Regions from separate parts of the Homo sapiens genome. Here region 2 is linked to region 1. A link means that fine-mapping ties the variant in region 1 to the expression of a gene that starts in the linked region. Tissue or cell type: whole blood. Region 1 holds a variant in brackets; the other region holds the start of a gene. All regions are shown on one strand. Distances are from middle to middle. Region 1 overlaps NUTM2F (NUT family member 2F). Region 2 holds the start of SLC71A2 (solute carrier family 71 member 2).

The links.
Region 2: it holds the start of SLC71A2, and the variant in region 1 is fine-mapped to the expression of SLC71A2 in whole blood (INTERVAL, PIP above 0.99). The same link has a PIP of 0.9 or more in T cells, adrenal gland, blood mononuclear cells, cerebral cortex, monocytes and nucleus accumbens.

What each region holds. Positions count from the first base shown.
Region 1 is chr9:94,321,105-94,325,487 of GRCh38, forward strand. NUTM2F (NUT family member 2F) reads right to left here. Exons shown (of 7, transcript NM_017561.2): 2 at 4,134-4,383; 3 at 1,097-1,225; 4 at 1-128. LOC105376154 (a long non-coding RNA gene) reads left to right here. Exons shown (of 3, transcript XR_930132.4): 3 at 2,638-2,898. Among named protein-coding and RNA genes, the nearest start is that of NUTM2F, 5.3 kb to the right of the region's middle. The variant C/T (reference allele first, on the strand shown) is at 2,252.
Region 2 is chr9:94,372,487-94,376,869 of GRCh38, forward strand. It overlaps SLC71A2 (solute carrier family 71 member 2), which reads left to right and starts at 2,083. Exons shown (of 12, transcript NM_032558.3): 1 at 2,083-2,441. The coding sequence starts at 2,334. RefSeq lists enhancers at 1,851-2,352, 2,353-2,852 and a silencer at 1,902-2,301.

The DNA of each region.
Region 1 (4,383 bases):
CCACCTCAGGGGCAGGGGGTCCTCGAGGTTCAAGCCTCGGCGGGGCTGGAGGAGGCAGGCTCTGGGGCCCCTTCATCCACTGCGATTTCTGAATCTGCATCTCCTCCTCAGCCTCAAATTCCAGGAACCTGTGGGTGAAGGAGGCCCAGGCTGTGCTGAGAGGGTCCAGGCCCCCTCCCCCCAGGACCAGGCAGCAGCTGAGGGCAGGGATGGGAGGGAGTGCCTCCGGCGGGCTGTCCAGGCCCTCACTGGGACCCATCCCCCAGTCCCAGGAGGGAGCTGCTCCCAGAGTTCTGGGCTCACCCTCCCTCACCCGGCCCCTGCAGAGCCCATGGCATCAATGGGGCTTCCTGACTCAAGTCAGGGCCACGAGGTCCAGGAGGGTCCCGGGAACCCCTCCTCCAGGTATCAGCTGGCCGGGGGTGGGGTTGATGGCAGAAGGCGTCAGGGATGATGCCCAGATGCAGGAGTCCTGAGGCTGGGACTGTGGGCCCCTGAAGGATAACCCAGGGACACGAGGCCCGGGAGACCCCTGGTCAGGAGGAAGCAAAAGCTGAGCCCAGAGGACAGGGCCCGTTTCCCCTGAGGCTGCTGTCTGTCTGTCTTCACGGACGGTTCTGCCCAGGAGCAAAGGCAGTCAGGCCAGAGAGGGGTCTCATGGTGTCCCAGGTACAGGTCTCCCCTGACCCAACTCCCTGGCCAGGCTGGGATGGGAGAAAACCGACTTCTGGCCACTGCTGTGAGGAGCCTGCCCCCCACTCTGTCTTTAGTCACTAGCACCCCTTCTCCCCATCCCCACAGCTGGAGGAGACCCCCTTTGGGCTGCGATGCTGGCTGCTCCCGCCATGACCCCCAGTGTCAAGACAGCGGTTGGCCCCAGGCCAGGCAGGGGGTGCTTCCCAAGAGGGCGGGACAGAGACCCCAGAGCACTCTAGGTGTCAGGAGCAGCTTCCTGAGGGAGCCAGGGGCCCAGGGCATCCTGTGTTTGTCCACACCCTCCTCATGCTCCATGCTGAGAAGCCACCACGGCCACCGGGCCTCTGTCATTCACTCTCACCCCGCCACACGGGCCCTGCCCCCAGGACCCCAGACTCACTTTTCCGCCATCTCGTAGAAGATCATCCGGTCAAAGTTGCTCGTGTGCTGCCATTCCCGCATGGCCTGCCACAGTCCCTCCTCCAGCGTCATGGTGGGCTTCCGCCGGGCCAGGGATCGGAGAACTGGGCTGTAAACCAGTGCAGTCAGTCCCAGTCTGTAAGCCCACCCTCCATCCCGGGCCCACCTGGTCCCAACACCTGGCTCCTGTCCTCCCCACACCTGTCCTGCCATCTGTCCCTGTCCTGTTCTCCCCCATGTGGGCTCCTCAGCCTCCAGGACACACCCCCAAGATCCAACATCAATAGAAGCCACTGAGTGGCCTCTCCGACTGCCTCTCAAGTCCTCGGTGTTATGATGTTGACAAGCGAACTCAGTGCTATGGGTGGAACATGTGTGTCCCCAACATTCCTGTGCTGAAGCCCTCAGTGTCAGTGTGTCAGTATTTGGAGGCAATCAGGGTTAGAGCAGGTCATGAGCGTGGGTCCCAGTCATGGAATCCGAGCTCTGATAAGGGCAGGAGGAGACACCAGGGCTCTTGCTCTCAGCCACAAGAGCACACAGCCAGAGGCAGCTCTCTCCAGCCAGGAAGAGGGCCCTGACCAGACACCCAATCCGCTGTCACCTTGATCTGGGACTTCTGGCCTCTGGAACTAGGAGACATGAATGTGTCTTGATAAAGCACCCAGTCTATGGGATTCGTTACGGCAGAGCCTGAGCTGACTGAGACACCATGCACACAGAATGACCTGGGAGCGAGGGTTAAAGTGCAGGTTCCTGGGCCACAGGACTGAGCATTTAACCAGCTTCCTGGGGACTCTGGAGCAAGGCAGCCCCTGGGGACACAGCCTCAGGGTCCTGGAGCTTGAGGAGCAGGAGCACACGTCCAGAACCAAAGCAGAGCGGTGTCCAAGCCACTGCAAGCAGCCAGGCACAGCTTCCCACATTCCCACAGGAGCCAAGGCAAAGGCCTGTGAGCCCGGGGCGGCTACACTCCAAGAATCAGGGTCCCCAGTGCACCGGGACTCCGCTCCAAGGGGGGATGCAACCAGTTCCAGGGTGTGGGGGCAGCGAGACTGTTGGGGAGGAAGACGGGGCCGCCTTCACCTACACCCCAGGCAGGGGACTCCCCTAGGGGAATGGCCAGTGTGTTGCA[C/T]GGTGGATATGCTCAAGCTCCTGTTTGCTCATCAGCGGGAAACACAGGGTCACAGAGGTGCCGCGGGGTGGAGAGAGGCAGGGACTGGGAATGAAACCACAAACTCTCCCAGATGCTGATGTTGCTGCCTCACAGTCACCACAGTCCACGGCTCTGGGCTGCTGGGCTCGTGGTGCACTCAGAGCTATCACTGGAGCCCGTGGCTTTGGGGAGCACTCTCCTAGATGGCCTAGTCCTGATAATGGTAGTAATGGGGACAGTAATCATAACTGCTGTCATGTAATGTGTCATAGTATGTGCCAGGCACTGTGCTACGTATGTCATATGTGAGCTCAGGTCATCTCTTTGCCATCCTCTGAATGAAACACCATTGTCCTTTTTTCTAGGGGGGATTGACGGTGAAGATGCTAATACCTGCCCAGCATCGACCCTAGTGCGGGTCCCAAGACCATCCCCCTGTGCAGGCTCCACCACCGCTGTGCTAACTGGACCGCGGCAGAACAGTGTGGGTGTGTGCCAGGTTCCTGCTGGGCCCTGCAGCTCCTCCCCCCAGCCCCATGTGATGTGCCCCTGGCCATTGACACTCAGTTCGAGGGAAGGCACTGGGGTGTACACTCAAAGACCTAAACCCAGGGTGGGTGCGGTGGCTCACGCCTGCAATCCTAGCACTTTGGGAGGCTGAGGCGGGTGGATCACAAAGTCAGGAGTTCAAGACCAGCCTGCTCAACATAGTGAAACCCCGTCTCTACTAAAAAATACAAAAAATTAGCTGGGCATGGTGGCGGGCGCCTGTAAGCCCAGGTACTTGGGAGGCTGAGGCAGGAGAATCGCTTGAACCTAGGAGGCAGAGGTTGCGGTGAGCCAAGATCTCACCATTGCACTCCAGCCTGGGTGACAGTGCGAGACTCCATCTCAAACAAACAAACAAAAAAGACCTAAACCCTAACCGTGGCTCATGTCACACCAAGAACGCTCTCTGACCTGGGTCTTCTGTAAACATTGTTGTGAAAATTATTGAAAGTGAAAGCCAGGCACGGTGGCTCATGCCTGCAATCGCAGCACTTTGGGAGGCCGAGGCGGGCGAATCACCAGGGCAGGAGATTGAGAGCATCCTGGCTAACATGGTGAAACCCCGTCTCTACTAAAAATACAAAAAAATTAGCCGGGCATGGTGGTGGGCACCTGTAGTCCCAGCTACTCGGGAGCCTGAGGCAGGAGAATGACGTGAACCTGGGAGGTAGAGCTTGCAGTGAGCCAAGATCGCGCCACTGCACTCCAGCCTGGGCGACAGAGTGAGACTCCATCTCAAAAAAAAAAAAAAAAGAAAAGAAAAGAAAAGAAAGTAAGTATTGGGGCGGGGCATGATGGCTCATGCCTGTAATCTCAGCACTTTGAGAGGCTGAGGCGGGCAGATCACCTGAGGTCGGGAGTTCAAGACCAGCCTGACCAACATGGAGAAACCCCATCTCTACGAATACAAAATTGGCCAGGCATGGTGGCACATGCCTGTAATCCCAACTACTCAGGAAGCTGAGGCAGCAGAATCACTTGAACCCGGGAGGCGGAGGTTGTGATGAGCTGAGATCGCGCCATTGCACTCCAGCCTGGGCAACAAGAGTGAAAGTCCATCTCAAAAAAAAAAAAAAAATTAAGGATTGGCTGGACTCACGGGACAGTGACAGGCAGTTGACGTGAGGCCCCTGACAGTCTGTCCTGAGCCGCAGCCAGATTAATGTTGCTGAAAACGTACCTTCCCATAGCACAACCCATCACCCTCACAACCGCCCTGCAAGCTCCCCTGAACAGTGTGACCTCCTGTCCATCCAGCAGCCTCTTTATGAGTGAGCTGCAGGACAAGCTCCGGCGCCCCGAGGACACTCACATGAGGAAGCAGGAAAGCGCTTCAGTGTCAGGACTCTGGGGAAGGTGCCTCCGGGCCAGGGGCTTGTAGTGCTGCCAGAGTCGGAAGTTCTCATAGACACTCTTGGGTTTACAGGAGTCGTCCGGCCGGGCCTTGGCCTGGGAGGGAGCCAGGCTGCCCTCTCCATGAGCCCCTTGTGGCCATGGCCTAGCGTTCCCTGGGGACACGATGGGGGCCACCTGGGCAGCCGGTGGTGGTGGTGGAAGAGGAA
Region 2 (4,383 bases), 51 kb after region 1:
TCAGAAACTGATACCCAAGCTCATAAGTGGCATAAACATAATACTCAAACAGCATAACATAATACATATATTCCCTCTGTGTTTTGAAAACTATTTGTTAAAACAATCATTCAGAAAAGTAGACAAATCAGGCTGGGTGTAGTCGCTCACGCCTGTAATCCCAGCACTATGGGAGGTCGAGGCGGGTGGATCACCTGAGATCAGGAATTCGAGAACAGCCTGGCCAACATGGTGAACTTGTCTCTACTAAACATACAGAAGATAGCCAGGTCGTGGCATGCACCTGTAATCCCAGCTACTCGAGAGTCTGAGGCAGGAGAATTGCTTGAACCCAGGAGGCACAGGTTGCAGTGAGCCGAGATCGAGCCACTGATCTAGGCTGGGCGACAAAAGCGAAATTTCGTCTCAAAAAAAAAAAAAAAAAAAGAAAAAAGACCAGGCCGGCTCGGTGAGCCGAGGGGGGCGGATCACTTGAAGTCAGTAGTTCAAGACCAGCCCAGCCAACATGGTGAAACCCCGTCTCTACTAAAAATACAAAAATTAGCCGGGCATGGTGACGCGCACCTGTAATCCCAGCTACTCGGCAGGCTCAGGCAGGAGAGTCGCTTGAATGCGGGAGGTAGAGGTTGCAGTGAACCTAGATCACGCCACTGATCTAGGCTGGGTGACTGTAGCCTGGGTGACAGAGCAAGACTCTGTCTCAAATAAATAAATAAATAAATAAAAGTAAAGACTTCTGCAAAGTGTGTGTGTGTGTGTTTGGGGGTAGTGGGTGGGAAGCGAAAAAGAGGCTTTTTTTTTTTTTTTTTTTGGAGACGAAGTCTCACTCTTGTCACCCAGGGTGGAGTGCAGTGCACCATCTCGGCTCACTGCAACCTCCGCCTCCTGGGTTCAAGCGATTCTCTTCCCTCAGCCTCCCAAGTAGCTGGGATTACAGGCATCCGCCACCATGCCCGGCTAACTTCTGTATTTTTAGTAGAGACGGGGTTTCACCATGTTGGCCAGGCTGGTCTGGAACTCTTGACCTCAGGCGATCCGCCCACCTCTGCCTGCCAAAGTCCTGGGATTACAGGCGTGAGCCACCACGCCCAACCTGAAAAAATTCTTAAATGAAATGACTTTAATTCAATTAAAATTACTAATCCTGTTAATAGAAATAATTTTATTCTTTTTTCTATTGATGTTTGTAAAAAGATTTTTTTTTTTTTTTTGTGAGACAGAGCCTCACTCTGTCGCCCAGGATGGAGTGCAGTGACGCTATCTCGGCTCACTGCAACCTCCGGCTCCCAGGTTCAAGCTATTCTCCTGCCTCAGCCTCCCGAGTAGCTTGGATTACAGGCGTGCGCCACCAAGCCCGGCTAATTTTTTTGGTGTTTTTTGTTTTTGTTTTTGTTTTTTAGTAGAGACAGGGTTTCACCGCGTTGGCCAGGCTGGTCTCTAACTCCTGACCTCAGGTGAACCAGCCGCCTCGGCCTCCCAAAGTGCTGGGATTATAGGTGTGGGCCACCGCTCCAGGCCTGTAGGCTTTTTTATATTTCAGTATTAGGTGCATATCTTTCAAAATAAATAAACATAAGCCAGGCTTTTCCAACTGCGTCCTACACATTCTACAAGATATTAATCATGTGTCAAGAATAAAAAGTGTTGTGTTCAAGTACGTTTGGGAAACATTGCTAGTATATTATTTTCTTCTTAGAGAACCATAGAAAAACTTGAGAGGTTGGCGGGTTGGCGCAAACCAAGACCAAAACTGAACTGCAATCACTACCAAACCCCCACGAGTTTGCCCCTCCCCGCTTGCTAGCCTCAGTCCAGATTCTCCGGAAAAAGAAATCAGTCGTACGGGCTCTCGAAATGACGTACTTCCCGCGCGCCGCGAAGTCCTGATGCCAAGGGGCCAGTCGCGAGGTAAAGGAGGGGTCTCTGAAGTGGGCGTGGCGTCGCTGGAGGCTACTCAGGCGCGGGACTCGTTCTCGAGGCGGGAGCTGAGGTGCGGGGCGGGGCCTCCTGCCCGGCGCCGGCCTGTGGGGAGGCGGGGCGGGGCACAGTCTCTTAACCGTGCAGCCCGCCCCTGACGCCGCCGGTAACTGCGAGAGTCGGGGTCGGTGCGGTTTGATAAGTGGTCGGTTCCTGGAGCTGCGGTCTTCTGCTAGCCTGATCCGCAGCTTCAGCCTCCGCCGCCTCCTCAGCCCTCGGCGCCGCCGCTGGCGCCGCCGCCTGACCCGCAGGCCGCCGCGGGCCGCAGAGCCCATGAGGGCGCGGGCACCGCCGCCGCCTCCGCGGCGTCGCCGTCGTCCCGGAGCGCCCCGGGCTGGCGCGGGCATGGCCGCGGCATGAGCGTGGAGCCGCCGCCGGAGCTGGAGGAGAAGGCGGCGTCGGAGCCCGAGGCGGGAGCCATGCCGGAGAAGCGCGCGGGCGCGCAGGCCGCGGGGAGCACCTGGGTGAGCGCGGGCGCGGGGCCCGGCTGCCTGAATCCCGGGGAGGCTGGGTGGGGTCGCACCCAGGGCCCGCGAGCCCGCCGCTCCGGGCAGGGGCTTCGGCTCTTGGAAAGTCGGTCCTTTTCTGGGGGGGGAGGCGAATTCATCACGAATACAGGTTTTTCCTAGTGACTGCTCATCGCAGACAAAACTTTACAGGATTTGGTTATTGTTTCAAAAGGCGCTAGACATGGGACAGTGAATATAAGTAGTAATTTGGTTATTTCGGAGTTCTCCGTCCCTGTAACAGTTGATAACAGTTTTCCTGGCGCAGTTTCTCTCCAAGTCTACATGGAAAACAGGTAGGGAGCATTTGAATCAGACCGTCGACGGGGAAGTTGGCGGCAGATGCCGGGCAGCGCCTTGCTGCTCCTTCCGTGTTCTCCCGGCGTCGGAGGGGCGGTCCTAGCGATGGGGAGCAGAGTTTCCAGGGGCGTTGCTGGGGACCAGCCGAGGAGCAAGTTAGGCTGGCCTCTTTCTCCAGTTTTACTTTTGCTTGAGGTCGAGATGGCTTCTGACAATGATACAGAAGCAATTGAGCCCTGACTTAACTGGCCTGGTTTCGGCAGAACAGGCCTTGTCTGTGTCAGTGGTTTCATATGGTGCAATATTAAGCCTAGAGGGTTTGTCGTTTCTTCAAGGCCTAAGTTTAAAAAGGATTTTTTTTTTTTGGTCTTAGGACCTGAAATATAGAGAATGTTACAGTGAATAGAAACTGACACAATGGGAAAGTTTTTCCAAAGAAAAGTAGAAATTTTATGGAAATTAAATACATGTTTTTGGCTTTAGATTTTTAGCTTACATATCTGATTTTGTGTTTAGTTGAAGAATGCTAAGTGTTTACATGAACGTATTTGGGGATGTAAATCCCTATTAGTAGGTTGGGAGGGCAGCTGAAGCAGAAGGAGCAGTAGGTAGAACGGATCCGGCAGAGCTGGTTTTTAGTCCTGGTTTTGCCTGAACAGTGCGCACTCTGGACAGGGTATTGAAACAGCCTTGCCCCTCAGTGCCTCCTCTGTAAAATGAGGACTTAGTTGAAGTCCCCTCCCAGCCCAAGTGACTCCCTATTTTGAAAAGCATTTCAAAGTTAAGATCTCTGTAATATGAGAAGCTTATTTTGTCGAGGGAGAGAAATTCTGTATAATTGCTTGCTCTCATTTTGATTCGCGTTAAGTAGACTTGTCCTCTTCCTGCTTGCTACACAAAACTAAAGCACCAGTTCCTCCTCCTGTCTCATGAATTGATGGACAGTAATTACTAACCAGTGGCCCAGCTAGTAACCTGCGAGGTAGCTTCCTTCATCCCTTCCCATACTTAAAACAATCAGAAAGTCTAGCTAAGTTTATTAGATACAGATTTTAGGTTTTTATCCTCTCCTATGCATTCTTATGCTCAGAATTTCCTCAGCATTTTTGACCCAGACTTTGACTATCTCTTTCAAGACCCTTGCTCACCCCAGCGTCAGTCCACCTTGCACGTGGCTGAGTAGTGTGTTCTAGCATGTAAAGATGATCATTACTGCTGTCCTTAATTTTTTTCATTGGCTCCTTATGGCTTACAGAATAAAAAAATAAATTGGCAGGTTGAAGCATTATTAGTATAGTGATTAGACGAGCATGCTTGAAATCCCAGTTTCCACAGTTCGATAAGTTAACGTAACTCCTGATTAATAATGGCATTTACCTCAGAGGGTTGTGAGGGTTGCTGCAACTTGGCATCTAGTAAGCCCCTTAATACATACTAATGTTGTTAGTATTTTGTAATATTCTTTGCATGTATGATTGAATGATCACAATCTATAGGTGATCTGACCGTGATAAAAGTAGTTGTCTCCCATTTCCTAGTGTTGACAGGAACTAGACCCCAACCTAGAAATTAAAGTTGCTAAATTTGTGTGCTTAAGAGC